Regions from separate parts of the Homo sapiens genome. Here region 2 is linked to region 1. The links come from fine-mapping of genetic effects on gene expression. A gene starts in region 1. The other region holds a variant in brackets. All regions are shown on one strand. Distances are between the middles of the regions.

Region 1 (14,636 bases):
AAGGCAGTTCTCAGGGAGGAGCCTGGATTGTGTCCATGTATAAAGAAAGACTCTGCTGCTGATGTGCAAAGGAATGTGGATGTGATAGTTTCCAGCCTGAAAGTCCCCCTCTTTTCATCTCCGCAGTATAGTTCTTAGAAACAACAAGCCTTGCTTTTACAGTGAGTCCATATCTAAAACTTTATCTGAACCCAAAATACCTGAGATAGGTCTCAGTCAATTTAGAGAGTTAATTTTGCTAAGATTAAGCATGTATCCAAGACAGCTTCAGGAGGTCTTGACAACGTGACAACATGTGTCCAAGGTGGTTGGGGCACAACTTGGTTTTATACATTTTAGGGAGATATGAGACATCAATCAATATATGTAAGATGTACATCAGTTTCGTCTGGAAAGATGGGACAACATGAAGCAGGGAGGGGGCTCCCTGGTGACAGGTACATTTGCATTCTTTTGAGTTTCTAATTAGCCTTTCACTGATACATACCTATGACCTGGGTTTCCAGGTCATAGGTACGACTGCATTCTTTTGAGTTTCTAATTAACCTTTCACTGAATACATAACTTACAGGAATAGTCACTTATGCCTTAGTCTGGCTTAGTGAAACAATAGGGAAAAGGAAGCAATTAGATATGCATTTATCTCACATGAGCAAAAGGATGACTTTGAGTTCTGTCTGTCTTTTGTCTACAGGGAATTTTCTTGTGGGCAAATTGTGAGGGAGGTATGTAGCTTTTTTATCTTTGTTGCTATCTTGTTTAGGAGTACAATGGGACGCAGGTTTGCCCCACAGTTCCCAGCTTGGCTTTTCCCTTTGGCTTAGTAATTTTGGAGTCCTGAGATTTATTTTCCTCTCACATCTCCCCGTTTTTCTTTTTAAAATCTTTCAGAGACAGCATTTTAGAAGAAAACAAGTCTCTGGTCTCAGGCTTTGTCTGATCTCTCATGGCTAGGATAGTTTATTCCTAGATGGATAAGTACCACGTTATTTGGAAAGCTCATTTTTAGTAGGTTATGAAGTCTCATGTCCTTTGAAGAGAAAATAGGGGGAGGAAGGAAGAAAAACAACAACAAACAAACAAAATGAAGAAGAATCCTGGAAAATCAATATAGGCCGTATTACTCTGAAGTCCATGTCAGTAGGCAGGTATGAAAGTGGTTTATGTGTGTAAATAGGTTGCTATTATTTTCTTCTGAAGTTTACATTGTCTAGCTTCAGTCTGTAGGGCTTTAAGAAAGACTGCTTAATTTTAAGTGATTTCAAATCAGGAAAAATGGGGTGGGGGGAAGTAAACGAAAGAAGAAAAAAATTGAAAACATTATTTTGGAGACTTGTAGCCAGGAAAAATTTTTGAATTCAATCTAAATTGTAGAAAATAAAAAAAACTGAAAAACATTAGGCAAGACTAGAATCTAATAACAGGTGTACTATAGTTTATGTTGAAATATAATTTTCCTCTCTCCAGTCTCATTTTCACTAAAGACAAGTCATAGGACAAATTCATTTGCAAAATAAGTTGTAGTCTTATTATACTTGGCTGGAGTATTTGCATAAAGTCAGAAGAATAATTATTTGCTATATAGGCTCCTCTTTTTTTTTAATTGGCTTTGCTAGAACTTTATTCCACTAAGAATCTCAGATTTAACTTTAATGCATTAAGCCTGGCCTGTGCCTGCAAATCCTTGCGTTAGTTGAGTGAATTCCTCACTTCAAGGTCCCAAGAAAACTTGGGGCTCCTGGGCCTGTCAGAAAGTGACATTCTTTACTCACTACAGGTCACCCTGTTCCGGGACTGTGCAGACAAGGTATGAGACCAGGTTTCTCAAGGAGTTTTTATTGGCTCTAAAGTCAACTTTCATTCTTTAAAGGAGTCTGTTTGTATCTGAAAGCATCCTATTCCAGTCAAAACCTTGGTAAAATAACCAGTGTCTCCAATTGTGCCCTGTTACAAAGGAACATTCTTGAGAAAGAATCTTTCTCAGAGGAAAGATTCTTATTGCATGTATGCAAATAACTATATTGCCATAAGTTAAGAATACTCACAACTAGTTTCTAAATTTTGGAGAAATCAGGTAGAGAGAAATATGCTCCAAATTTTGTTTACAGAAATATACTTTACTCCATTGTTAAAAGCTATAAATAGCTCAAAAGAAAAGTTTTCTTGGCTCTGAAAAACAAAGGGTCAGCAATGTTTTAGGCAAAAAGTCATAAAAGGACTATTTCAGTTTTCTATTAGTTCAGTCCATGCAGTTAACTTCTTTTCTGCTTGATATTCATGAACATTTCAGCTCTCCACTGGAGTCTTGGAAGTTTTTCCTCTATTCTAGTGTCACAGTCTCCAAAGTTATTAGAAGCCTGCATTCAAGAGCACCTGTCAGAGTCCCACAGCTGATTATAAAACCACCTTTTGAATAGGATAAAAGTAAAACAACTGTGGATAACAAAAGTCTTAGAACAGTCATAAAGACACAATTGACAAAGATATTTGGTTACTTCTGTGGCATACAACAATTTTACATAATTATAATTACCACAATTACATAATAATAATAATTACCACTGATAACATATGCCAAGTCATATCAGAATCACAGGAATTTCATACAATTCTCAAACATATACCAATAACATATGTGCATAAATATAATCCAAAGAAGATTAAACATTGTTTTATACTTGACAATACTTCCTGTATGATTTTATTATATCAAATAAACCAAATATGTCTCTTTTGGACTTCAGGGGACTAATATCAAAAAATTAATGAGGACCAAAGTTAGAATTTGATTGTCGAAGGTTTGTCAAACATAAAAAGTTTAAAACACTTAATATCACAAAGTAGGATCACAGGTCATTGTAAAGTCATTCATTTAGACAAAGCGATAACTCAAAGATTTTTTTTAAGGCGAAAACCTTTATTCTTTGAGAGGAGACTTCATTTCCCAAACAATAAGCCTTAATAAAGACAGGATGAGGCCAATTAAACTTGTTCTCCAAAATTTTATAAACAGCCTATAATATTAAATAGTTTAATCATCTTGACCATAAGATGTAATTTCCATAAGCCTTTTTTATAACCTTTTATTAAGGAGTGGGTTAACGCTCCAAGAAAACCTTGTTAATCTGACTCAGAGGCCCATATGCTAGTCTTGCATCAGTGCCTTCGACATTAATGGTTAATTTATAGAGAAACTAAACTTATTTTATCTCTCAAAATTGACCCTTACAATGTCACACACCCATGTCTTCCATGATAGTTCCTGGGTCTTGAGGAGTTGAATAGTTTTAATTTCTGGCCCTGTGTCTCATGAACACAGTTTATTTTGATTGGTATCTTCTACAGGGTCTGAAGATAAAGCTTTAACTGCTGTCAGTGTTTAAGATTTAGCCGGACTTGGCATCCTTTTTAGACCCAGGAGTCTAAACCCTGTAACTTGATGGCACAAGGACTTTAAAAGCACATACAGAAAGTTACACAGATGTAATAACCTTAATGAAAAATAGTTTTTCTTTTAATCTCAGTTTTTTCTAAGCAGACCAAAACTTAGTAATAATGACATAGGAATTATTTCAATATAAAGTGTAAAATCTGTTTGTTAGGCCAGTTACCCAAAAGCAAAAGCAAAGAGCTTCTGCACTGCGACTGCTGTTCCCTGTGGAGAATCCATTTAGATTAACTGCAAGTCAAAACTAATTAAAGAGATACTTGAATTAGTTATGAGAGGTGAAGCCAGCTGGGCTTCTGGGTCGGGTGGGGACTTGGAGAACTTTTCTGTCTAGCTAAAGGATTGTAAACACACCAATCAGCGCTCTGTGTCTACCTAAAGGTTTGTAAATGCACCAATCAGCACTCTGTAAAAACGCACCAATCAGCGCTCTGTGTCTAGCTAAAAGTTTGTAAGCACAACAATCAGCACTCGTAAAAACACACCAATCAGTGCTCTGCATCTAGCTAAAGGTTTGTAAACACACCAATCAGCACTCTGTAAAAACGCACCAATCAGCGCTCTGTGTCTAGCTAAAAGTTTGTAAGCACAACAATCAGCACTAGTAAAAACACACCAATCAGTGCTCTGCGTCTAGCTAAAGGTTTGTAAACAGACCAATCAGCACTCTGTAAAAACGCACCAATCAGCGCTCTGTGTCTAGCTAAAGGTTTGTAAATGCACCAATCAGCACTCTAAAAATGGACCAATCAGCACTCTGTAAAGTGGACCAATCAGCGCTCTGTAGAATGGACCGATCAGCAGGGCATGGGCAGGGCCAAATAAGGGAGTAAAAGCTCGCCACCCAAACCAGCAGCTGCAACTGGCTGAGGTCCTCTTCCACACTGTGGAAGCTTTGTTCTTTTGCTCTTCACAATAAATCTTGCTGCTGCTCACGCTTTGGGTCTGCACTACCTTTATGAGCTGTAACACTCATTGCAAAGGTCTGCGGCTTCACTCCTGAAGTCAGCAAGACCACGAACCCACCAGAAGTAAGAAACTCTGGACACATCTGAACATCTGAAGGAACAAACTCCAGACATACCATCTTTAAGAATTGTAACACTCACCACGAGGGTCTGCGGCTTCATTCTTGAAGTCAGTGAGACCAAGAACCCATAGGCAGGAACCAATTCTGGACACAGTTAGACATAGGAAGAGTGTTTCCTGGGTCGTAAGTGAAAATTTTTTATTTCATAGAACAATTTAAAGCCAAAAGCACAGAATATTATGTTGGAAGGAAACATTTCCTTTAGACCTTTAAGAGAAAACATTTTTAGCATCAGACCACAACAGAACCCGAAAAAAAAGAAGCTTACAGAAGCTGAAAATGAGTTGAAGAATAGAGTGATTATTTCAGGCACTTTAAAAGGGGAGAAAAAGCTGAAAACAGTGAGATGCAATACAAGTTGAAATTTACTTAAAAAATTATAATGTCTTTTATCAATTTTAATTTTATTAAGAATGAAGCAATACTTCAAGAAAATTCCATTGTTCTAACCAATTTTTTTTTTTTTTTTTTGTGTGTGACAGAGTCTCACTCTGTCACCCAAGCTGGAGTGCAGTGGTACAATCTCAGCTCACTGCAAACTCCGCCTCCTGGGTTCAAGCAACTCTCTGCCTCAGCCTCCCGAGTAGCTGGGATTACAGGCGTCTGCCACCACGCCTGGCTAATTTTTGTATTTTTAGTAGAGACGGGGTTTCACCATCTTGGCCAGGCTGGTCTTGAACCTGTGACCATGTGAGCCACCTGCCTTGGCCTCCCAAAGTGCTAAGATTCTTCAGTATATAAATGGTTTTTAGAAAATACCAAAACCCAATTCCTAGAAAGACCATTAAAAATAATTTCCCTTTAATTATAGACAACTTGATTATCTAAAAGCTTTTTTTTCCATAAATCCGCTTATGATTTACTCCAGACCATTCATGACATGCTTGTGAGGTAGAAGAATAGGGTCTGGAGGCAGGGAATCTAAGGCCAATTTGCCCTGACTTCCTAGAACTGAATCACAAGGAAAACCCCACCTCTCCACACCCAAGTAACAAAAGTATCAGAGGCTACTGTCTTTGCACTGCCTCACAGATAAAAATGGAAAGTACCTCTGATTGGTCCCCTCCCACAACCAATCAGACTTGTCGTGGGCCACTCCTTCACTTACATAGGGTATAACCAAGTAACCAATGGAAAACTTCTAGAGGGTATTTAAACTCCAGGAAATTCTGTAACCGGCCTCTTGAGCTCCTTGCTGGAGCCCAATCCCAGTCTGTGGAGTGTACTTTCATTTAAATAAATCTGTGCGTTCTTTGCTTCATTCTTTCATTGCTTGGTTTGTGCATTTTGTCCAGTTCCTTGTTCAAAATGCCAAGAACCTGGATGACTCATAGTCAAGACCCTCCACCAGTAACATATATTGGCGAGCCAGCCAGGAGGTAAGCCCAAAGTTTGGGATTTATTTTTCTTCTCTTGATTTCCCTTTTCCTCTCTGCTCCTTACAGGGGAACTCTTTTCTCTGTCTCTTTTTCCCTTTCCAGCTTGGAACCCTCGGTGGACAGTGCCTAAGCACAGAGGCAACCACAGGTTTCTAACAGGGCCACTCTCTGGTGAAACTGAAAGGTTTCTGTGTGAAAGTGCCTGACCACCACTGCCCAATTCAGGTGAGGGACCTGAGTCCTTTTCCTTTTTTCAGTCTTTCAGTGGCCGTTTCCTAGTAGCTTCTTGGTAATTGAGGGAAACTGGCCGGGACCACTCTCTACTGTTACCTGAAGGCCAAGGAGTGAACCTGGGATAGCTCTCCTGCCCAGAAGGCGGAAGGACTCTTTTGTATCTTTTTGAGTTATAGTCCCTGATCCCTACCTGTGATGCAATTGGCAGCAGAAGCTCGTCCAGGGTGAACTCACACACATTTCAGGCGACTTAAACCCTCTTTCTTAAGCTAAATTCTCCCATAAAGTTGGCCTGTAAGGACAAAAGATAATATCTCTTAGATATTTTGACCTCCCTTCTCCTACTGAATCTATTGACTGGCTGAGGACCTTTGGGACCCACAAGCTTTAGAACACATTCTACATCTTGGACCTCCACTTAAGGGAGCTTGGTGGTCATTGCTTTGGCATCAGTTTGCTTGCCCTGAACCCCGTAGAAATTCTATATATCTTTTATATACCCAATATAAACCCAATCTTTTATATAACCTCTGCACCATTTCTTCATGGGGAATATCCCACTAGCCTTGGTACCGTTAACTCTGCAGTGTTCGGGAACCTCCTTAGTCTTGCAAGGAATGCAGGAAGATATGGCCTATCTAAATTGGTAGGAAGCTAGAAGCTGAGACCTTCATCCAGGGACAAGAGAAAAGCTCATATTAGGCCATTGCCTCTGGAGGGAAAACATACAAAGCAACACTGGTGCCCACCTAAGGTCAGAGATGTCTGACACTTTTAGACTGGACCTCAAAGGGGGATGCCTAGGGGATCCAACTCCAGACCTCAGCCTCTCCAAAGGGGATGCCCTAGGCAAAGGTTCTCAGGTCTAGTACTAAGGCCTCCTTAGAATTGTCTCTCTCTTGCAGACCACTACAGGAAACACTCCATTTATTCCACCTGACTTCCCACTTGGCTGCATCCTCAACCATTGAAATGAATTTGACCCTGATAATCTAAGGAGGAAACATTTGATATTCTTTTGCAATAATACTTGGCCCCAGTATTGTTTGGAATCTGGAGTTTGCTGTTGAATGGGAAAGCAGGATGACGTTGCATGTATCCAGGCTTTGGTGCTGCTGTCCTAAGAAGGGTCAGGCCTAGTCAGCATATGGTGCTCTCCTTTGGTGCTATTTGGCTCCAGTGTCTTTGGAGTCTGAGGAGGTTTGGCCTTTAAAAATCAAACTGCCACCGGAACTGCTTTAAAAATGTTTGGTTCACAGCCTTCACTGGATTACCTATTGGAGCAAACAAAGTGTAACCATGTAAAACCTGTGAGCTTGTATTGATATCTCATGGCTAGAGTTCCAAGGTAAAAGCTATTGGATCTTCGTTTGTGTGTGTGTATACATGTCTAGATGTGTTTATTTGTATGTACACTTATTGTTATATGTTGTGTCAACCAAATCAGCTTATAAATAAAAAAGCACTCATAAATTAAATAAATAAGTCCAAGCAATTTTCAAGTTCATGTGACTTAAGTAAATCTTCATTAAATAGCTGGCTTTAAAATTATTGGTAAAATGAAAATAGAAATATCTTCAGAATTGTCAGCATACATTTTTGTCTGGGTTTTATATTTGTCTTTGCTAGAAATGTTGAAGTGTCAGCATTTGGCATAGAAGATTATAAAGCTATTAACCCAGCCAAAACAAAATGGCCTTAGTTTATGTGGCTTCTTTGACAAATGAGACTAATTTAATATTGTTAGCTAAATCTTCTGGGTTATTGGCAAAAACACCTATGTATTTAACTGTGAGGTTCTTATTTAGGTGAACACATAATGTTCATTGGCTATTAAAAATGGTTAACAAATAAATAACTAACTTTAAATGATGGTGTCTAATATCTCAGTTTTCAGAAGTAATCTAGATAAACTGTTAAAAATGAAAGACTTAAGTACATGTAAATGGGATGAATGATTAGGTAAATTTTGTGTAATTTAAAATCTTAAAAGTATTTTTGATGCCCATTGGATATCTCAGTCATTTCCAATTAAGAAAGGGTTATGATAGGGAGGAATATGTTTCCAAAAATTGTGGAATTATTCTCATCTATAAAATGCTAATATCTGATAGTTTAGGATTTTTTGCTTCCTAAGGTTTCACTAAAATTTAAGGTTACTAAGATGATATGGTTTGGCTTTGCATCCCCACCCAAATCTCTTCTTATAACTCCCATAATTACCGTGTGTTGTGGGGAGGGATCCAGTGGGTGAGAGATGATTGAATTATGCTGTTCTCATGATAGCGAATGGGTCTCATGAGATCTGATGGTTTTGAAAATGGGAGTTGCCCTGCACAAGCTCTCCTTTTGCCTGCTGCCATCCACATAAGATGTGATTTGCTCTTCCTTGCCTTCCACCATGATTGTGAGGCCTTCCCAGCATGTGGAAATGTAAGTCCAATAAACCTCTTTCTTTTGTAAATTGCCCAGTCTTAAGTATGTCTTTATCAGCAGCATGAAAACAGACTAATACATAAGGATATGAATTATAGTTAATATATAATTCTGTATACAAAATATGCCAAAAAATGTGTTATTGGTGAGAAAGAATTATTTTGTGTAGTTTGGAGGTTATCTGAAAGTTAATTCAAATTATGGACTTTAAAAAAAAGAGTTATTTATGAAACAAGGTAGTAAGGAACCAGTAAGTAGGGGAGAGATGTGAAGAAAGTTATATATATGAAGATATGTTTTTGTGAGGGAAGATTGTAGAGATGGTGGCTTTGTAGGAGAAAAGATCTTGTACGATAAATTCTTGTCCTAACGTAAAATGACTGGTTGTTTAAAAAGAAAGATGTTTAGGAAAACTCAGAAAGTCCAAGCATTTTGTAGATGGTCTGGGTAAGTTATGAAAAGAATTCATGTAAGAAAAGGATAATGTACCTTTGGTAAAAAGCATGGGAATGTGGATTTCTTGCCTAAGTTTAGAGGGTGAAAGGATGGTTTTAAGTGAGATAGGAATAATCTAAAAGGTTTGAACAAGTTGTGGAAGGCTTATGAAAAATTAATTGTAAAAGAGATTCTGTGTGTGAACATATTGGCTAAAGTTAAAGGGGAAGACTGGCAATTAGACTTCACCCATATGCCAGTGTGCAAAGTATACAAGTTTTTGGTAGTAGTAATAGATACTTTTACTGGCTGGGTTGAAGCTTGCTCTATGAGAACAAAGAAGGCTCATGAAGTTGCTAAGCTTCTTTTAAAGGAAATAAATCCCCTAGTTTGGGTTACCCCAAAGCCTCTAAAGTGATAAAGACCCATCTTTTAGAACTCAAGGGGCTGCTAAGGCTCTCAGAATCAAAAATTATTTACATGGGAAAGTAGAAAGGGCTAATCAAGCTCTTAAAATGGGTGTTAGCTAAGCTATGTTAGAAAACATCAGAAATTTGGGTCAGCTTATTGCCTGTAGCCCTCTTAAGAACCCTTAATTCTCCTAGAGCAAAAATTAATATGAGCTCATATGAAATGTTATACAGAAGGCCATTTTTTTTTGAGATGGAGTTTTGCTCTTGTCACCCAGGCTGGAGTGCAATGGCACAGTCTTGGCTCACTGCAACCTCTGCCTCCCTGGTTCAAGCAATTCTCCTGCCTCAGCCTCCTGAGTAGCTGGGATTACAGGCATGTGCCACCATGCCTGACTAGTTTTTGTATTTTTAGTAGAGACAGGGTTTCATCATGTTGGCCAGGCTGGTCTTGACCTCCTGACCTCAGGTGATTCGCCTGCCTCAACCTCCCAAAATGCTGGGATTACAGGCATGAACCACCGCTCCTGGCTGGCCATTTTTAAATAATGATCTAATTACTGATCCAGAAACAGCCAGTTTAGTAACATGCGTAATTAACCTGGGACAATTTCAGCAGGCTTTACAAAAGTTTAGAACTCAAAGACTCCCCACACCAGGAACTAACCAGCAACCCAAAATCAGGCCAGGAGATAAAGTACTTGTTAAAACATGGAAGGAGGGATCACCTGCTGAACAATTACAACCCAAATGGAAGGGACTATTTTCAGTGGTACTGGCCATGCCTTCTCCAGTCAAAGTACTGGGAATAGTTAGTTGGATATGTCTTTCCAGGGTCCAGCCTGCAATAACTGAAGCCCCCAGACCTGGAACCTGAAGATCCCATCAGCCACTAAACCTGTGAACCTGTAGAAGACCTGAAGTACCTGTTTAAAAGGCAGCCAAAAGATAAGTAAATTCCTATCAACTTTCCTTGGTGTCCTTCTTGTATATTTACTGTAAGCTGGATATAATAGTAGCCATTTTTATATTTTTACAATTTAATTGCTTTCTTCCAAATGGATTGAATCACTTCTTTTAAAGTGTTTTAATTAATTTTTATCTATAGAACAAAATAACAAATAAGTATTTTTTTTTTATACCATAATGGTCACCCACAGCCTGTGTATACTAAGACCATGCATACTGATAATCAGCTTTATTTTACAAAAGAGTTTCGCTTTACCCCTCTGGTAATTAATGGATTCTGGGTATTTATTAAAAACTTTAACACAAAGACTGTTAAATACCACCAGTCCAGCTTTGGCAAGGCACTGTTGGCTTTGTTTATCTCCATCATCATCCAAACAGACTACCAATCCTGATCCCAGCCCAATCTTGGGCCCTTGAAAAAATAACTTAACATCCTAACTACAAGGGAGAAACTCCTTTCAAATTAATGAACCTGGCTGACTTATATAGCCTTAAAATTATGGAAATGACAAGGGTTACAATGTCAGAATGAGCAGTAAACCTTCCCCAGTCCTATCAGAGCAAACTTTCTGGGGTTGCATCCCCTCAGAAACCCATTTGGGGCCCAATCTCAATGCACATATCAGTGCGCAAAGCACTAAAATTCCAGGCAACACTTTGTATTGAGAGAAGCCAAAATTTTGGTCCCGCCCTGGGACATCTAAAGTCACCAATGTAACTACACCATACAGATTAAACCCTCACATGATCATGTAAGCTATGCAGTTACCCAAGCTGCATCATTTAGAAAACCTGTACAGTTTTTATGGAAACCATCCCTAGTCAAGGACACTTTAAATATATAGTCTAAATACCGTTAAGGTAGGCCCACTAGCTGTGTTCACATTTTCCCTTGGCCACCTTACCAGGGACTTTAATAACTTGGGAAAGTGAAAACAACAAGCTAACCCACATGTTCACCATAGAAAACAATTTTGTCTTGAAAAACAAGGACTCTTTTTCCCGTGTGGGACCAGTTCCTACTTATGTTTTACCAGCCAATTGGACTGGAACCTATACAGTTGTTTATTTAGCCCCCGAAATTAATATAGCTCCCAACAACCAATCCTTCATTATACTTTTAACTGCAACCACCAGACACAAATGAGCCATCCAACTGATACCACTTTCGGTAGAGCTAGGAATAACAGCAGGAGTAGGAATGAGAGTTAGCAGCCTTGCAGTTTCCCTATCCTATTACCAATGCTTGTCCAAGGATTTTATGGAAAGCTTAGGTGACATTGCCCAAAAGTATCATCACCTTACAAAATCAGATAGAGTCTTTGGCAGTGGTGGCTTTGTAAAATAGAAGGGGACTGGATCTCCTAAATGCTGAAGAAGGTGGCTTATGTCTTTTTCCTAGAGGAAGAATGCTGTTTTTATGTCAACCAAACAGGATTAGTAAGGGATGCCACCCAAAAACTAGCCGATTGGTACCATAAGATATGACAACAGCTGTCTGAGTCATGGGGCGCCTAGTCAAAATGCTAATTTGGGGCTCACATCTCCTTCCTCTGGCCAGTCCACTATTAATTATTATACTTGCCTTGGCTTTTGGATCATGTTTGTTAAATCTTTTAACCAGATTTATTTCTTCTTGCCTAGAGACCATTATGATAATGCAGCAGGGCCACCAGTCAGTTTCAGATAATGATGTCAACCCCGGCCACCAAGAAGTAACCTTGTCTCCACTAGACAGAGCAGGGTGAGAGTTCTGTAATCCCCAGTAGGTAGGGACTGTGCCCCAAGTCAGCATGAAGTAGTTATGGAAGAAAGACCATGGGTCCCTCTGCCTCCCAGAAAGATTTATGGGGATCACATCTCTCAGGGGAAAATGAGGCAGGAGAATAGGGTCTGGAGACAGGGAACCTAAAGCTGATTTGTGCTGAGTTTCTAGGATTGAATGAAAAGGAAAACCCCACCTCTCCACACCCAAGTAACAAAAGGATCAGAGGCTACTCCCTTTGCACTGCATTGCAGATAAAAAATGGAAAGTACCTCAGATTGGTCCCCTCCCACAACCAATCAGACTGGCCATGGGCTACTCCTTCGTTTACATAGGGTGTAACCAAGTAACCAATGGGAAACCTCTAGCGGGTATGTAAACCCCAGAAAATTCTGTAACCAGTGCTCTTGAGCTGCTTGCTGGAGCCTACTCCCACTTTGTGAAGTGTACTTTCATTTCAATAAATTTGTGCTTTCATTGCTTCATTCCTTCGTTGCTTTGTGTGTTTTGTCCAATTCTTTGTTCAAAACACCAAGAACCTGGATGACTCATAGTCAAGATCCTCTACCAGTAACACTTGAACTTTCTGGTTTGTCCTGAACATCCCTCTTTCTTAAACAACCAGTCGTTTTATTCTAGGCCAAAATTTTACCATACAAGAATATTTCTCATATACAATTATCTTCCTTCTAACTTTTCTTGCCAGAAATACCTTTTATAACTTTCTTTACATTGCTTTTATTTAACGATTACTTTTACCTTGTTTCATAAGTTTTAAATAGCCTTGAATTAGATAAAAAATTATTTTCCTTTAAATAAGAACACATTTCTTTTTTTAGAAAAATATTTTTCTGTAATTTTTTTTTTTTCTTGAGACAGAGTCTTGCTCTGTCACCCAGGCTGGAGTGCAGTGGCACAATCTTGGCTCACTGCAAGTTCTGCCTCCCGGGTTCACGCCATCCTCCTGCCTCAGCCTCCAGGGTAGCTGGGACTAGAGGTGCACACCACCACGCCTGGCTAATTTTTTGTATTTTTAGTAGAGACGGGGTTTCACTGTGTTAGCCAGGATGATCTCGATCTCCTGACTATGATCTGTCTGCCTCAGCCTCCCAAAGTGCTGGGATTACAGGTGTGAGCCACTGCACCTGGCCTAATATTTTAAATTGGAAATGACCCAGATGTTTAATGAGTACCTATTATTTAACTTAATATAATTTTAGATTCTAAATTATATAACAAGTTTAATCACAAGCATTTATTCCATTACATTTACCTAATTAATTTTTTTAATAGTTTACTCAGATTACTTTTGAAAACTGAGAGTTATCATTGAAAGTTATTTCCCAGTTAATCATTTTTATAGACTGCGAATTTCAGGTTTTCCTAAGTAAGAAACTTAAGGTTAGATAAATGGTTTCTTTTTTTTTTTTTTTGCCAATAACTTAGGATTTAGCTGTTTTCATTAACTAAACAATATTAAATGCCTTATTTATGAAATTTTACATAGAGATAATTTTCCTTTGGGCTGCATTCATTGTTTTATAACCCTCATGCCAAATTTTGGCATCTAGCAGAGATAAATATGAAACCACTGTTCCAATAAATTTAAACAATAGTGTATGTTGACAATTCTGAAGCCATTCTAATTCTAATTTTATTTCATGACTACTTTCAAAACCAGCTTATTTATTAAAGATATACTTAAGTCACATGAACTTGAAAAGACATTTGGCTTAAAATCTCTATTTTCTCTGATACAGTATTTGATTTAAAGCCCCTTTTTTTCTTTAAGCCAATTAATTAGAGCACTTTTACATGTTTCTAGTAGTGAAACATCATATACATGACACATAAATACATAGATGTATTATACATGCAGATAGAAGTAGAGCTTATCATTTCACAAGACCTCTTTTTTTCCTCCAGTTCTAGACTTCTAATTTCTTGATCTTATTACCCTAGGCAGTTGTCAGCTAAGATAACCCTAAATTTGCATATTAAAGGAACTCTTAGATGAAAAAAATCAGATAGTGAAATTTACATCTCAAGGTACAGAGAGAAAGAGTCTGGTGCTAGTGTTTCCAGAATTTATTCCTTCTGGTGGGTTCTTGGTCTCTCTGACTTCAAGAAAGAAGCCTCGGACCTTGCAGTGAGTGTTACAGCTCTTAAAGGTGGCGTGTCCAGGGTTGTTTGTTCCTTCTGGTGGGTTTGTGGTCTCACTTCAGGAATGAAGCTGCAGACCCTCATGGTGAGTGTTACAGCAATTAAAGGTAGTGTGGACCCAAAGAGTGAGCAGCAGCAAGATTTATTATGAAGAGCGAAAGAACAAAGCTTCCACAGCATGGAAAGGGACCTGAGCGGGTTGATGCTGCTGGCTGTGGTGACCAGCTTTTATTCCCTTATTCGTCCCCACCCACGTCCTGGTGATTGGTCCATTTTACAGAGCACTGATTGGTCCATTTCACAG
Region 2 (17,154 bases), 19 kb before region 1:
GTTTTTAAAACTGGAACATCCAGAGATGGGCCACAAAAACAGACAGAGAAGAGAAACAAAAGAATTCGTTCTGAGCTGTTAAATCCACATAATAGGAGTAGAGGTCTTCCTACCACAGAAGGTGAATCAGGGCCTTTTAAAGAAACAATGATGCTTCATAAAGCTGAAAAGGAGTCAGACACTAAGGTGCAGAAAACGCTACTCTGTGCTTAAGCAACAGATGGGCTTTCAGCCAGTGAATCCACCAGGGCCATTTCTGAGTGCTACACCATTTCCCATGGGTCCCTTACTTTTCATTGAAGATTATATTGACAGCTGTACATGCATCTGATATGGCAAGTCAAAAAACAAATTGCTCTCCTAGAACACAGATCTGAAATAAGAGAGAAGGCCAATGCTCAAACAATAAATTGACTTGTCAAATCAACTAGTTACTTCCCAACTCTGACAACGTACTTGGAAATGAATAATACTGTTAAGATCAAAAACATATACACAAAACCTCAGTAAATCTAAAATTCTGAATGGAAAATTTTAGGGATACTTAGAGGCATTTTCCATTTTTTCTAATAAAGGGCATGCCTTTGGATAAGAAAATGAGATGAACGTGTGGCTTCAACAGTATCAAAATGTAAGAAATAATTTTCTAAACCATGAGTAATTACTAAAACAATGAGCTTCAAGCAAGGGATAAAATTACACTCCACAAGTATCAAAATAAATCAGCAGATGATTCAACAGCCAAATTAAGAAAGTTTTCAATGTAAATGAAGAAGGAGAAATTATTTTAGCTATGTTGGAAAGTTAACTATCACAGAGAAAAAAAGCATGCTAAAAAAAAAATTAGGACAACAGTGGAAAAGTATCCAGTAATTCCCATGAAAAACAACATATTAGGGAGTTCTATATTCAGGCAGAGAGAGAGAGAGAGATCGGTGTAAAGAAAATAGGTATAATCACAGTATTGGTTTTTTGTTTTTTGCCCAAGGAAGTAAATAAAATTTAAGAGGTGAGCCTCAGTAGACCTCATGACTAAACATGGTGTTGGAGAAATGTACTTTGCCTAAACGGAATAGCCAACAGATGAGGTGAGACACCAGCAACATATATACATGAGCACATGCATCTTCCCAGGGAGACGTGCAGTTTTGATCACATTCTTAGGGTGGTCTGTGACCCAACAAAAGGATAAGAACTACTTCTAATATAGAAAGTATTCCTGCAATTGGTAAAAGGTCAGAATAAATTATCTCTGTGGTCTCTTTTTTGTCTTCTCTAAAATTTGTCAGCTTAAATATTATACAAATTATAAAACTTTAGGCCTATAGGCAAACTGAGAAAAGCAAGGACAGAAAAGTCAGGACCTGCTCATGAGGTTCTAAGAATAATAGCATGAAATCAGGGTCCAAGCAGAGGCAGATCAAGTAGCCAGTGAGAAAGTGCTCATCAAGTTATCTGCCCCGAAGTCTCCACACCAGTGCTGAACACTACCCATCATCAGTCACTCCTGTGGTTTTAGCTATTAAATCCAGAAAAGTAGTTTCCAAGGTCAGACAAATTGAATGCCTATTAACACGGACTTGTTAGTTTGGGCTGAAATAAAGGGTTAGTCACAAAAGAGAGAAGAAAATAAAAATGCAAAAAAAGAGACGCTATACAGGACAGAATTAACCTCTGCTTCATTACAATGTGGCCAGGGTCAGCATAATGGGAAATGCAACAGTCATTAAACACTGAAAGAAGGACAGCGACCACCTAGGTTACTCTGATAACATCTCTAGAGTACTCACCTGGGCCAAAACACTTTCCATTTCTGATTTCTTTTCGACAGAACACTTCTTATCAGACATCAATTTCTGTAAATGAGCTGTAAGAACAGTGTTGACATATATCAATCAATGGGAAAAAGGACAATGCACTTTTCAGTTTCAATGCTAGACAATTAAAAAGTAAATCCAAGCATAAAGTTCTTAATTTACATGAATCCCACAGTTGATTTTACAACAGCAGTCATGGTATTGTCTTGATTCATTTGCTAATTAGAAAAATTATCTGTATATAACTAATTATCTACATATAACTTTTTTAAAAAATAAAGGACTTGATCTATATACTTAAGATCTGTGCACTTTGCTCTTTGAATGTTATGCCTCAATAAAAAATTTAATGAAAGACATCTGAGAGAAAGTTTAAACCTTTTATTTTGATCAATCCTACCTGAAGGAGATGAAGAACCTCACCTTTTAATAGATGGTCAGCACGAAAACATTCTCCATTTTTTACGTCTTTCACCATGAAGTCAGCAAATTTGTCTACATGGCCAGAGGTCCTAAATTAACAAATGCCAACCCAATTTGTCATTCTCATACAAATTACACATAGATATTACCTTATAAGATAATTCCCCATCAATATTTATATCCATCTCAAAGATGGAAGCTCCCATATCTATAGTAATGATGTATCCATGACAGTAATGGATGCCAGAGAAAATTCTTCCTCAAATCTATTTCTCACCCTCTCCCACATTCTTCCTTCCCATAAGAAAGAAGACATTAACTAGACAATAAAAAGACAATTCTTTTCTACAAGTTGTCATAAAGTCTGTACTATTCTTCAGGATCAATTAATCCATGCCTATGCCATTATTATTAGTGATCTAAGCAAAGGCCAAAATCACTGGGAATTTGACTAGTTAAGAATTCATGGCAGCTCAGTATAGACATTGAACCTTAAGGGAAGTGTTTTCTGCCACTGAAACCTGTACTGACATTGGTATTATCTCTACAAAGTTCCTATTGGTGGAACAAGTAGCTAAAATGATAGGTAGTCCTGATCTTATAGAGCCATCATTCAGAATTCCTCCTCTTCATTGGCTGAAATTATTAAGAGAACCTAACGGATGCCAATAGTAAAAATTAGCTCTCCACCAGTCAACCTTAAATGAATAATGACGAGTTACAAAATGGCAAGAATTCCTCTTTCAGGCCGGGCGCAGTGGCTCACGCCTGTAATCCCAGCACTTTGGGAGGCCGAGGCAGGCGGATCACGAGGTCAGGAGATCGAGACCATGGTGAAACCCCGTCTCTACTAAAAATACAAAAAAATTAGCCAGGCACGGTGGCAGGTGCCTGTAGTCCCAGCTGCTCTGGAGGCTGAGGCAAGAGAATGGCGTGAACCCGAGAGGCGGAGCTTGCAGTGAGCAGAGATCGCCCCACTGCACTCCAGCCTGGGGGACAGAGCGAGACTCCATCTCAAAAAATAAATAAATAAATAAAAGAATTCCTTTCAGTTTCACATTCTGAAATTCTGCCCTACTTTGGGAGGCCGAGGCGGGCGGATCACGAGGTCAGGAGATCGAGACCACCCTGGCTAACATGGTGAAACCCCGTCTGTACTAAAAATACAAAAAAAAAATTAGCCAGACGTGGTGGTGGGTGCCTGTAGTCCCAGCTACTTGGGAGGCTGAGGCAGGAGAATGGCGTGAACCTGGGAGGCAGAGCTTGCAGTGAGCCGAGATCAAGCCACTGCATTCCAGCTTGGGCGACAGAGCAAGACTCCATCTCACACACACAAAAAAAGGAAATTCTGCCCTACTTTCAATAACGTTGGTAGGAATAATCTAAGTTTCTGCATTGAAACTTTAAAACAAATAGTATTTAACTGAAAATCTCTACAAGTATACCTTTGCTCAGAACTTGTATTAAGGAAATAATCAAGGATATACCCAAAAATCCATCTATCAAGATATTCGGTGCAGTCAAAAATGAGAAACACTTTAATGCTTTCAATATGGCACAAACTAACATATTATGGCACTTCCATAAAACAGAATACTATGCTATCATTAAAAATGCTTTAGATGAATAGTTAATGATATGAGTATATGTTCATCAATATTACATGAAAATAAGCAGTGTACTGCTAACACTGAAATACATAGGGACGTACAGAAAAAACAGGAAGGACAAACACAATCATCTTAACATAGCTATCTGTGAGCAGAAGGTATACATTTCTTTGCTTTTCCATATTTTTCAGATTTTCTACATGAAATGAGTAGTTCTTTATAATCAGGAAGTTATTTAGATAAGTATATTAAATAATTTAATAAGTTATTTTATTTAAAGTAGGATACCCCCACTCCAAAGTAAGATCTCACTTTAAAACTGGCTCAGGGGTGAGCATGGTGCAATCGATCTCCAGGATCTGTTCCTCTTGGATAAAGTGCTGCCTCCAGGTCTGAATAATATTGTTCTTCAAAGCACAGCCAACTGGCCCAAAGTCATACAGACCACTAACACCTATAGAATATGAGAGGAAAACACATACTTTACCTTGTTACTCTGAACAAATGAAGGCAAGGAGACATGAGAAACTGATACCTATACTCCCTAAAAGTGTATTCAAGTCAACAATGCAAATCCCTCAATACTGAAGAACCTTACTTTCAGCTAGCTGATGGAAGTAAAATAAAAAAGCTCTTACGCCATTTACTAATTCTATATTTGTAATTTCAAGTAGGACTAGCCCAAAATCTACAACAAAAGTTCCCCCTTAGAGAACAGAATGAAAAAGCAGATTACAGTTTTCTGCCGTAAAAATTACAAAATAATTTCTCACCACATCTGATAACAATGATCTATAATTTTAGCATCCAATTCTCTAATTTTTTCCTGGGTATTTGAGGCACTATTTAACCTCAAAAGGGTAAACATTTACAGATCCACTTAGCCAAACTCAAGTCAACTTTCAGTGGCAAAGTACTATATGTCTAATGTTGTTGTAATAATCCGTTGACTATGAAAAATATAGTTTTACATTTCATCAGTGAATTGTATTTGCCTATATACCTTCATATGGCATTCACAGTGATTTATCTACATCCCTGGGAAGAATGTTTTCTCCTGGCAGATGACCATAAAGAATAATCTAAGGACTGTTTTATCACTGCCCCTGTGTGAAGGGGCATAGTATAGTTAGCCAGTACTACAATGGCCCTCTGTTACTCTTCAGTCTCCATTGCATTTTAAAAAGAGTACATGAGTACACAGACACATCAAATACATACATGGGCCTCCAACAATTCCCTACATCCTAATCAAAAAAAGTGCTGTCCAGGAATAAATGCAGTGGAGAAAAATAACAGGTATCACACCAAATGGTGACTCCAAGCAAACAAAAGCAAAACATCCATCCTCTGCTTTGTGGCCTGATACAAGTGGATACCAACAGGCAAGCCATGTTCTTGATTTAAGTATAATATTAGAGCCACTAACAACACAATAGTTCTTTTTGTCATTAATCCCTTACCTCCATAAATAGCAAAAGCTTGATCATAGAAAAACCTCCTCTTCAGGGTATCTTCCATTTTTGCTCGGTCTACAATATCATCTTTGGGCTGTAACGCCAGCTCCTGTTAGAGATTAAATAAAAAGTGAGTGAGTGGAGGGGTGGGTGGGAATCTGAACTTATATATCTGAATTTAGTTTATTCCTCACCAGAATTAAATATAAAATTTATCAAACAGACAAGATTTTGATAGGTTAAAAACAATAGAAGCCATAGGTCTTTTTTTCCCTTTGAGTAATATAAAAGATATCTTTACTTAATCATTTAGGAAAATATATGATCATTTCCAAGATTACAAGACTAAGCTTGACCAGGTGCGGTGGCTCACACCTGTAATCCCAGTACTTTGGGAGGCCGAAGTGGGTGGATCACCTGAGGTCAGGAGTTCAAGCCCAGCCTGGCCAACATGGCAAAACACTGTCTCTACTAAAAATACAAAAATTAGCTGGGCTTGGTGGTGGGCACCTGTAATCCCAGCTACTTGGGAGGCTGAGGCAGGAGAATCACTTGAACCCGGGAGGCAGAGGTTGCAGTGAGCTGAGATCGCACCATTGCACTCCAGCCTGGGCAACAGGGCGAGACTCCATCTCAAAAAAAAAACAAGACTAAGTTTACTTTGATGTAGATACTGATAAGCAATATAAAGCAATATTTGAATTGTCAGTGGATTGCTATAGCAAAATGGTTACTTTAAAACCCCAAAACAACTTAAGTTTGGTGATGGGAGATCTATTGTTTGAAAGGTCTGGGAGCAGGTATCAAATAAACAGACCTTTTCCTTAAAACAAACAAACAAACAAAAATCATTATTTTCAGGCATAAGAGAAGTCGTAAAGAAGAGCACAATCCTTTCCATGGAAATTCATATAGCGTATTGAGTCCAGCATTTGCAGGGTCAGGAAGGCTTTATTAAAAAGTTGACATTTTGAGTTGCATTTTGAAAGGATGAGGAGTCTACCAGGTAGAGGGAAAGGAGAAGGCGGCATTATGGATAAACAGATAAACCAAATGATACTTGTTCAGAAACTTTTCTAGGTCTCTCCCATCCAAAGAAATTAAAGATGAACAATCCTATACCTACTTATGTTCCTATTTTAGCATCCCAGGACTCACCTTTGCTTCCAGAACCCTCTTGCGGGCTTTGAGCTCAGCCACTGCTTTGTCTACGTCTACTTGGGGTGCTTTATCTTCTTTGAGTTTTCGCACAAGATCTCCCTAGCCAAGAAAGAGAATTTATATTCAGGATTGGTTTCAGAAGTTAAGAAATGTTAGGAATGTGTTTTTAAGCGTGCCTTTTAAAAAGTCTATGTAAGAATGATGCAATTCAGGCCAAGCGTGGTGGCTCACGCCTGTAATACCAGCACTTTGAAAGGCCCTCCTCACCATCTGAGATCAGGAGTTTCAGACCATCCTGGCCAACATGGTGATACACCATCGCTACTGAAAATACAAAAATTAGCCGGCCGTGGTGGTGGGCACCTGTAATCCCAGCCACTTGGGAGGCTGAGGCAGGAGAATCACTTGAACCCGGAAGGCGGAGGTTGCACTGAGCTAAGATCATGCTACTACACTCCAGCCTGGGTGACAAAGTGAGACTCCGTCTCAAAATGAAAAAAAAAAAAAAAAAAAAAAAGAATGATGCAATTCAAATGTTTATTATGTGAGTGATCATTATGAATCAAGGTCTCTGCCCTCTTCATTTAATAATCTAGAAGAACACACGGGCAAGTTAACAAATAACTGCTCACATGGTGAATTTTTTCCTTTGGGTATAGAGGGGTGAAAAAGGAGGAGACAAAAGCATTGATTAAAAAGTAGGAAAGAGCAAGATTTGTACTGAGAACACAGAAGAACCAATAAATTGACCACCTTCTTAAATCTCTCTCCTCTCGCTTACAAAAAAAAATAAAAACATTATTCAGTTTTCCTCCCACTTCTCTGACCATTCTTCTCAGTCACTGCTGGCTCATCTTCCTTTGCCTTTCTCTTTACAGTTGGAATTTTTTCCTTGCTAATATTTCTGAATTATTTTATTAACTTCCAACAACTTATACTAATTCCATATTTATAGTAATATGGTGGAATAGGTCATCTGAGTAAACAAACAAAATATTACCTATATAGGATGAAAAACTTTCAGCTGAGTAATTAAAGTTGTTAAATTGATATAGCCCTTGGGCACCCAACAGAGTTTCTAATTTCAGTGATCCATTTCCATACAATATGTGCTTCATTTTCACACTGTGTGATTGTTTTTGGTAGTCTCTTGTTCTTTGCTCATGTTTTTGAGTACTTCTTTTATTTTAAAAATTATCTTAAGCATTTTAAAAATATGTGATTATTCTAATACTTTTGGAGGATCTAATTCTATTATCATTTCCCCTAAGTCTCACTCAAGGTGGCTTGTTTCCTCATGGGTTTTTAAATTTTGAGTTTGGCACTTACTATTTTGGTAACCTTAATCTGTGAAAAATCCTAAAAGACCAATGTGGAAAGTCTGCTTCTTTTGTAATATGACGTTCTGGGTAAAGTATATGAAGAAAGACATATGTAGGTGGAAAAGGAAAAATAATTTTAAAAGCCGTTTCGGATAATTGTGGATATTCTTTGATACTACCTCAAAACTCTGACAAGTGGTAGCTTCTTCAAGGTTATTTCTAACTCAGAAACTATAGCAATGAATTTTTTGTACTGTCAGAATAAATCTATTAATGTATCTTAAGCTTTGAATGGCTCTTTCACCAATACCTGATTTCATAACATCATGCATTGGTCACCTGGAAAACACTGGTTCACTGAGTTACGCAGATTATCCAAATACTATCAAAAAAAAATCCACGTTTGTTAATATCACCACTCATCTCATCACAGATATCTTTAAGGACTGTGAAGCTGCCAAGCTCACAGCAAAAGATACGAGTCTTCCCAAATTCTAAAATTTCCCCAAAGTTTGAATTTTATTATTGGCCACAAATACTAACCGTTGTTTTCTTAAAGTGACAAACTCACTTCATTCATTTTCCAGATTAACAAATTTCTATGAAACATGTGCTACTAACAAGACCAGTCATTAAGTAAAAATCCCACTCCGGAAAGGTTTTCAATTGCACTTCACAATGGAGTTATCCAAAATGGATAGGGGTGACAGTGTGTCTCATTTCCCCATATACAAAAAATGGGTAAAATTAGATCATCTTTAAATTATTTTTCAGCTGACATAGGACTCAGTAATTCACACAATTAACTAACTGATATATGTGTGTTCTTGGAAAATTAGAAAAAAATATCCAAACTAACTTAAATCAACTAACTCGTATATTCGGAAAATATCTTAAAGTACAAAACAATAATCAAGACAACATAAACAATACACAAGACAGTAGTTAGTAGCATCGGAAAGCTGCCGCGATCAAAGTTTACTTTAGTTAACTAGATCCTGTCTTAACTACCGATGGATGATTTTCACTGCAGTTCCAGGCTAACGTGGCAGAGGGAGGGGTTTGGGTGTGGTGGTTTTTTTTTTTCTCCAAATTAGTTGTATGCTTCCTTCTAAAGGGAAGGATATTTTTTAAAATGGCAAGTTAAGAAAAGACAAAGGAACCACACCTAATTTTATTTGTGGAGTGGAAGGTGGGTGGAGGGAGACAGAATATGCAATCGGTGTTCTGACACCAATCATGAAGAAAAAAGTTAAGCCCGTGGTGATATTTCAAAATGAAAGGCTATTTATTAAAATCGGTCAGGCTCAAACCAGCGAAGAGGACAGATGGCAAAGTGGCTGAATTTGCGGCAGCTATGCCCCAATGAATTATTTCCGAGATAGGGTTCCACCCTCTGTAGCTAAGGCAAATTATTGCATCAGGCGCCCATGCAGGAGAAACCCGTTTGGTGTTTACTACTAAGTCATGATCTCCGGGGTCCTACTGCAAGCTCTGGCTCTCCCTAATTGCATATGGGAATCATCTGAAATAATCTTTTCCTTGATATCTCTAAATTCTAAACTCTATGGCAGTGCCCTAGGAAAAGGAGGTCTATATTAAATCACCAAGTCCTTCAGCCCATGAAACCTTCCCTCACCTTCGGGAAAATCAAATGTCAAAATATTCCATACTAAGGATGGCTGACTTCACTCCGCAACACTTAGTTTCCCAGGTTTACGATCTGAGGGCTCACTGGTTCCAAACGGCCTTTTCAGAAGCCAGAAAAGATGACAAGAGCAAAGGATGATGAGTTCACAGCATTAATAGAAAAGTTCGACACCTCCCCACATCCACATTTCAATTCTATTTTCTCAGCCAATCATTCCGCTAAACTAAGCACTGAATGAAGGAAGATGTTAAGGGGGAAACACTATCAAAGCATCCTAAAGATTAAAGGGCCTGGCCGTAAGACGAAAGAACCGGCAGTTTTTCGGCTCATCATTGACCACTGAAAGAATTAGGAGGCTTTCCACCCAGGGTGCACAAAGAGTACAGCAGAGCCTGGAAAACTGAAGTTAAGGTTATTCAGTTAGGAGGCGAGGACAACCAAAGGGTCACAGATCCCAGCCCCACTGGAAATAGAGGAGACGCGGGCTGTGACAGAATGGGGAAGGGAGAACGGAGCCGGAGAGGGACGCAGGAAGTCGGAGGGGTTCCAGGGAGTCATCCAAAAAGAGAGGAGGACGGAGGTCCGCGGGAGAGGAGGTGGCTGACGCACGGGGGACTTGGGACCAAAGTGGGGGAGGCGAAGAAGACGCCAGAGGATGAAGGGAAAGAAAGGGGTAACCGAAGAGGAGGACAGTTCCCCGGGGAGGAGGGAAGGATGACCAGAAGAAGGCCCTGGGAGGAGAGCCGGAGGCTTAGCGGAGAGCGCAAAACACCGGTACCTGCTGGCGCACTGCTAGCCTCAGAGGTGCCAGCACCTCCTCAGCCCCCGCGCCGTCCATGCTGCTCCGGGAGGCGGCGGCGGGCAAGGAGATCGGGGGGCAGGAGGCCGCGCTGAGGGACCGGCGGAGCAGGAGCGAGGGTCGGGCTAAGAGCCGGGGCGGCAGCAGCAGCAGCAGAGCGGCGCGAGCACCTCTAAGCAGCACTGGACGCGGAGAGGGCATGAGCCTGCGGCCCTGGGCTGTCCAGAGAGGGTGGCGACGGAAGCGGCGCGCGCCGCCCGGCTCGGAGCATGATGAAATCGCCGCGTAAACGACGCGGCGCGCGTGCTGCCGCACATTCACCACCGCGTGACGCGGCGCCGGGTCGCCGCCGCAGATTCGACACAAAACCCGGAAGGACCCCGCCGAAGGTTTTCTCCGGTTCGGGAGAGAGGTAGGTAGGGTTGCGAGCGAACAGATTTGCACAGAAGTGCGTCAAGCCACCCCAGCAGGGTGGATGTTCAGGGACACAGCTCTGAGCGAGACCTGCAGGCCGAGACACACGAGAACCTTCAAAGCATAGGTTTTTATACGAGTGACACCCCGGCCGACCTACTTGAACGGACACTTCTGTTTCTGTTCTTTCGCGCCCTGCGCCTTAAAAGGGTCGCAAAACATCAAATCAGATAGGGATCTTAGACTTCTGTTGCTCAAGTGCAGATGTTCCCCAGATAAGGAAATAGGCCCAGAGAGGTTAATGATTTGCCCAGAGTCACACATTCTTGGTCCGCCGATGTCAAGACAAAAGCTGGCGAACGGGGGAGGAGGAGTGAGGGGATAGAGTCACCCCAGGCTTTCTGGAGAAGGTAAATTCCAATCTGCCCTTGCGGGGCGAGCAGGATTTGAACCGGCAGAGATGAGGAAAGGCAAGAGGTGCCTGATAAGTCTTTCTGCTTGGCATAGCCTCAGTCTATCTGCCTCCTGTGGTTAGGCCCCAGCTGACCAACCACCCAGAGATGGCTTCCCCCCGCCCCACACACCCAGTTCCTCCTGCCCAAAGGGTGGAGGGCCTAGAAAAGCTGGGTTCCCCCTCCAGGAAAGGAAGAGAAAAATGATGTGTTGGTTATAAAAACAGCATTGCGCACACCTGCAAAAATGGCTAAAATGAAAATGATGGAAAATGCCAAGTGACCCTCTGAGACTCCCCTACACTGCTCAGGGGAGTGTTAACTGGTGCAGCCAGCCACTTGGGAGCTCTTCGGCAGTATGCACGTACGTCTCCCTGTGACCCACAATCCCACCCCAGGAGTGTGCAGGAGTAGACGGGCTCAGTATAATGAAGTCTCCTTTCCTAATGGTGTGAAAGTCCATGTTATTTCTCTTCCCGTTCCAGTGTGCAGTTCTGGAGAAGTACTTACAATTCAACATGAGCAGGGTGGGTTGCTTAAGAACCTTCTGCAATATTGAACAATTATATTTTTAAACACTTTTATTTCAAGATTTGATATTAATTATAATTTATTTGGCTTTTATTTTACTAGGCAATTTTGAATTTATTTTAATATCTTTAAATGTGAAAAATCATTTTAAGTTTTACTTTTATTTTTATTTAGATTTTTATTAAAATGTTGAAATTCT[A/G]TATCCTTTGAATAAAACTATTTTATTTCTAAAAAATTCCTTAGATCAATAATGTCTCATCCATTTTCATGTTAGGACAGTCCTGAAAGGACTCCAAATCCGTTCTTCCCTCCTCCCCGACCAATTCATCCTCCCCACTGCTGCTTCAGTCATTCTTTCTTTCTTTTTTCTTTTTCTTTTTTTTTCCAGACGGAGTCTCGCTCTTTCACCCAGGCTGGAGTGCAGTGGCGTGATCTTGGCTCACTGCAACCTCCGCCTCCCGGGTTCAGGCGATTCTCCTGCCTCAGCCTCCTGAGTAGCTGGGATTACAGGCGTGCGCCACCACACCCAGCTAATTTTTTTATTTTTAGTAGAGACGAGGTTTCACCATGTTGGTCATGCTGGTCTCGAACTCCTGACCTCGTGATCCGCCCGCCTCAGCCTTCCAAAGTGCTGGGATTACAGGTGTGAGCCACTGCACTCGGCCCAGTCATTATTTCTGAAAGGCAAATCTGACTGTGTCCCTTCTCTTCTCAGGACACTTCAGTAGGCTCTTCATGGCCCTTGGAAGAATTTCCCAAACAGTTTTCTTTTGAAAACTGTGTCTGCACAATAATGATAATAGTTTATGTTTGTTGAGCACTCACTATGTACCAGTTAGTTCTAATTTATCTCATGGAATTTATTCACCAATTTAGTGAGATAGGTTCTATAGTTATTCAGAATTTTCACATGTGGGATTCAAGGGACTGAGATATCAAACAGCTTGTCCATGGTCACACAACTAAGTGAGTGTTGGGCCAGAATGTGAGCTGGGGGCAGAGGCAGATTTTCTACATAGCTAATGAAGCTTCAAGTGAGTTTAGCCCCTTTCTCTGTTGGGCTCTTTAAGTGCCCTGCAAGAGGCCCTAGTATTGTGTATGTATGATCATATATTTTTCTTGCTTTATTAAAGTTCATTTCTTTGAGGGAAATAAATTTTGCATACATTAAAATGAACAAAAATGTATAGTTCAATGGGTTTCGACAAAGCAATATCCTTTTGTAACCCCAACACCAAGCAAGATAAAGAACATTTTCCCCTGACTCCACAAAGTTCCCTTGCATGTCATCCCGGTCATCCCACCCTCCACAACCAGGCGATCACTATTCTCATTTATTTTCCTCTTAGATCTAGACTGTTGTATAAATGAAATAATGTAATATGTACTCTGTGTCTGATGTCTTTAATTGACCATAATGTGTGAGAGATTAATCCATATTGTTTCACATATCAGAAACTTGCCCTTTTTTGCTCTGAAGTATCCCATTGTGTGAATATACTATAATTTATTAATTTATTCACTAGTTGATAGACATTTGGGTTGTTTCATATTGTAGACCATTATGAATAATGCTGCTGTGAACATTCTCATACATCTTTTTTTGTAGCTATATGTTTTCATTTCTCTTGGGTAAATATCTAGGTGCGGAATTACTGAGTCAAACAATAGATGCATATTTAATTTTATTAGATTGTCACAAGTTTTTCCAATGTGGTCGTATTATTTTATGTTCTTAAGAGCAATATATAAGAGTTCTAGTTGCTCCACATCCTTGTTAACATTTGATGTTGCCGGCCTTCCAGATTTTAGCTATTCTAATAGTTGTATCTCATTGTGACTTGTATGCATTTTCCTGGTGATTAATAGAGTTGATTGTGTTTTCATGTGCTTAGTGGTCATTTGTACCTCTTCTTTTGTGAAACATCCACATTTTTTGTCTTTGCTTTTTAATATTGAATTATAGGAGATTTAGATATGCTGGATACAGTCCTTTGCTAGGTACATGTTTCATAAATATTTTCTTCCAGTCTGTGGCTTGCCTGTTTGTTAATGATGGTTTTGATAAGCAGAAATTTTTAATTTTGATGAAGTCTAATTTATCAATTTGTTTTTTTTCTGGGTTCTAAAAAATCTTTGCCTACTCTCAGATATTCACCCATATTTTTGTCCAAAATTTTAGTAGTTTTATGTTTAGGTCTATGATGCATCTTGAATTAACTTTTGTGTATAGTTTTAGGTAAGAGTCAAAGTTCATTCTTCCCATATAGATATCCAGTTGCTACAGCATCATTTGTTGGAAAAAAGTAGGGCTTACAAAAAATTACTGCCATTGATCAGCTCTAGTGCCTTTGTCAAAAATAAGTTCACCATATAAGGTGGACCTATATCTGGGGTCTCTATTCTGTTCTAATGATCCATTTATCTATCAATCTTTATGCTAGTATCACACTTCCTTGATGACTATTGCTTGAGGATAATTCCTGAAGTCAAATAATGTATATTGTCTACCCTTTCTTCTTTTTCAAAATTGTTTTTCTATTCCAGGTTCTTTCTATTTCTATATAAATTTTAGAATTGACTTATCAACTTTGTAAAAATACCTGCTGGAATTGTGAACCTGTAGTTTAATTTGGGGAGAATTCATAGTTTAAAGCACTGAATGCATTTTGATAAATATATTCCTAAGTATTTTATTCTTTGAGTCTTGTGAATGTTATTTTATTTTCCATTGATTTGCTGTTAATGTAGAGAAATATAATTGATTTTGTATAGTGACATTGAGACTTTCACTTATTAGTGCTATTATTTGTTTTGTAGGGGCGGGGGTTGTAGATTCCTTAGGATTTTCTTTTTTTTTTGAGACGGAGTCTCGCTCTGTCGCCCAGGCCGGACTGCGGACTGCAGTGGCGCAATCTCGGCTCACTGCAAGCTCCGCTTCCCGGGTTCACGCCATTCTCCTGCCTCAGCCTCCCGAGTAGCTGGGACTACAGGCGCCCGCCACCGCGCCCGGCTAATTTTTTGTATTTTTAGTAGAGACGGGGTTTCACCTTGTTAGCCAGGATGGTCTCGATCTCCTGACCTCATGATCCACCCGCCTCGGCCTCCCAAAGTGCTGGGATTACAGGCGTGAGCCACCGCGCCCGGCCGATTCCTTAGGATTTTCTGTATTAATATGCATATACTTTGTAAATAGAATCAGTTTTACTTCTTTCTTTCCAATATTTATGCCTTTTTCTTTTACTTGTGTGGTTGCGTAGTCTAGGTCATCTTGCACAATATTGAATAGAAGCAGTGAATGAACATCTTGCCTTGTTCCTGATATTAGAGGGAAAAGTGTTCAATGTTTCTCCATTTAGTGTAATGCTAACAAATTCAACTTGGTTTTGTCTTTCTTATATTCTGCTGGATTTTATTTACTAACATCTTGATAAAGATTTTTGCCTGTATGTTCATGAAAAATGAACATACAGGCAATCAGTGTATTGTTTTCTTTTCTTGTATCTTTGCCAGGTTTTGGCCTGGCTTTATAAAATCAGAGTTTCTTTCTTCTCTATTTTCTGAAATTTCAATATTTGTAAGATTGTTATCATTTCTTCCATAACCATTTGATAGAATTCACCAGTGAATTCTGGAGTTTTCTTTGTGGAAAAGTTTTTTTGCAGTTGCAGAGCCATCCATGCTTTCTATTTCATCTTTTGCCACTTTTGGTAAGTTTTGTTTTTCAGGGAATCTGGCCATTTCATATAAGTTATCAGATTTATTGTTTTAAAGTTGTTCATAATATTCCAGTAGTATTATTTGAATATATGTATAAGATCTGGAATGAAATCTCCTCTTTCATTCCTGATACCAGTAATTAGTTTTTTTCTCTCCCTCTCTTTTCTTGATTAGTCTTGCTAAAAGCTTACCAATTTTATCAATTTTGTTAAACATAAAAGTTTTGGGTTTGTTAATGTTCTCTATTATTTTGTCTATTTTCTATTCCATTGATTTCCACTTTTATCTTTATAATGTTTTCCTTTTTACTTACTCTGGGTTTAATTTGCTCTTCTTTTTTAGCTTCTCAATATGAAAATTTATAAGCCTTTCTTCTAAGACAAACATTTGAAATTATAGATTTCCTTCTACTTACTGCTTTAGTTAAATCCACAAATTTTTGATACATTGTTTTCATTTTCATTTAGTTCAAAGTACTTTCTAATTTTCTTTATGATTTCTTCTTTGACTTACTCCTTGTCGAGAAAAGTGTTATTTAATTTCCAAATATTTAGGGCTTTTTAACATATCCTATTATTTTAATTGTTGCTTTCTAGTTTAATTCCTGTGTGATCTGAGAAAGCCTTTTGAAATTTATTGACTTGTTTATGACTCAACATATGGTATATCTTGGCGAACACTCCATGTGTACTTAAAAATTGTGTATTATCCAGTTATCGTATGTAGTGTTTTATACATGTCAATTAGACCAAGGTGGTTGATAGTGTTGTTCAGATCTTCTGTATTACTTCAACCCAAATAACAGACAGAGGGAGATTCTCCAGAGATATTGAGTTTATTTGAGATGTGCAGGGGACTTGCAAATCCAGGATATAGGGCTCTTGGGACCATAGGCATAACTGAAGAGGCTGAGGCAAGGGGAAGCTTTTAAAGGCAACAGGGAGAAGGACACATAATTTGCCTTGAAACAGAGAATATTGGTTACAGGGGCTTATCACAGGAGTTGAAGCCAGTTCATTAGTGAAGACAGTGTGTCAGGCAGGTGTTGTTGTACATCTGGCTAGCTATCATTGTGATTCATGTAGCAGTTTGGGAAGTCTTTGACAAAAGTTCTTCTTACAGGCATGGGTGGGTAAGAGCTCTTCAGAGAGTCTTTGTAATCGTGTTCTTATCATAGATATGTGTGCAACACCCCCCCACACACCGCCCTGCTTCTCAGCCTCCCAGCCTTATTTATTTATTTTTGTTAGAGTTTGACATAAGTAATTCCACTTAGATTCTGACAACTTTCATGATCATTACTAATTTTTTATCTAGTTCTATCAGTAACTAAGAGAAGAAGTTAAAGTATCTAACCACGACTGTGGATTTGTCTATTTCTCCCTTTAGTTCTTTCACGTTTGCTTTATGTATTTTGAATTTGTTATGAGGCATGTACACATTTATAATTGTTATATCTTACTGGCAAATGGCATTTTTTTTATTATGAAATATTCTTCTTCATCTCAAAATATACTTTTTATCTTATAATATATTTAGCCTAACATTAATATAGCCACTCCAACTTTTTTATGATTAGTGCCAATAGTCAGTGAGGACCTGTGGCCTCCTGCCAACAGCCATGGGGTTGAGCTATGCAGGAGGTAGATTTTTCAGCCCCAGTCCAGCCTTCAGATGACTGCAGCCCCAGATGACATCTCAAATCTAACCTTATGAAAGACCCTGATCCAGAACTTGCCAGCTAAACTTCTTCCATATTTTTGACTTTCAAAAACATTGAGACAATAAATATTTGTT

Evidence for each region. PIP is the estimated chance that this variant, and not a neighbour inherited with it, causes the effect.
Region 2: its variant is fine-mapped to the expression of GARS1-DT in whole blood (TOPMed, PIP 0.96).

The regions. Positions count from the first base shown.
Region 1 is chr7:30,570,512-30,585,147 of GRCh38, reverse strand. GARS1-DT (GARS1 divergent transcript) reads left to right here and starts at 7,369. Exons shown (of 7, transcript NR_038889.1): 1 at 7,369-7,499; 2 at 8,438-8,584.
Region 2 is chr7:30,588,209-30,605,362 of GRCh38, reverse strand. GARS1 (glycyl-tRNA synthetase 1) reads right to left here and starts at 10,485. Exons shown (of 17, transcript NM_002047.4): 1 at 10,220-10,485; 2 at 6,466-6,567; 3 at 5,314-5,416; 4 at 4,163-4,304; 5 at 2,241-2,329; 6 at 1,791-1,867. The coding sequence starts at 10,441. RefSeq lists a silencer at 9,194-9,293 and enhancers at 9,189-9,802, 9,803-10,416, 10,437-10,786, 10,417-11,030. The variant A/G (reference allele first, on the strand shown) is at 11,837.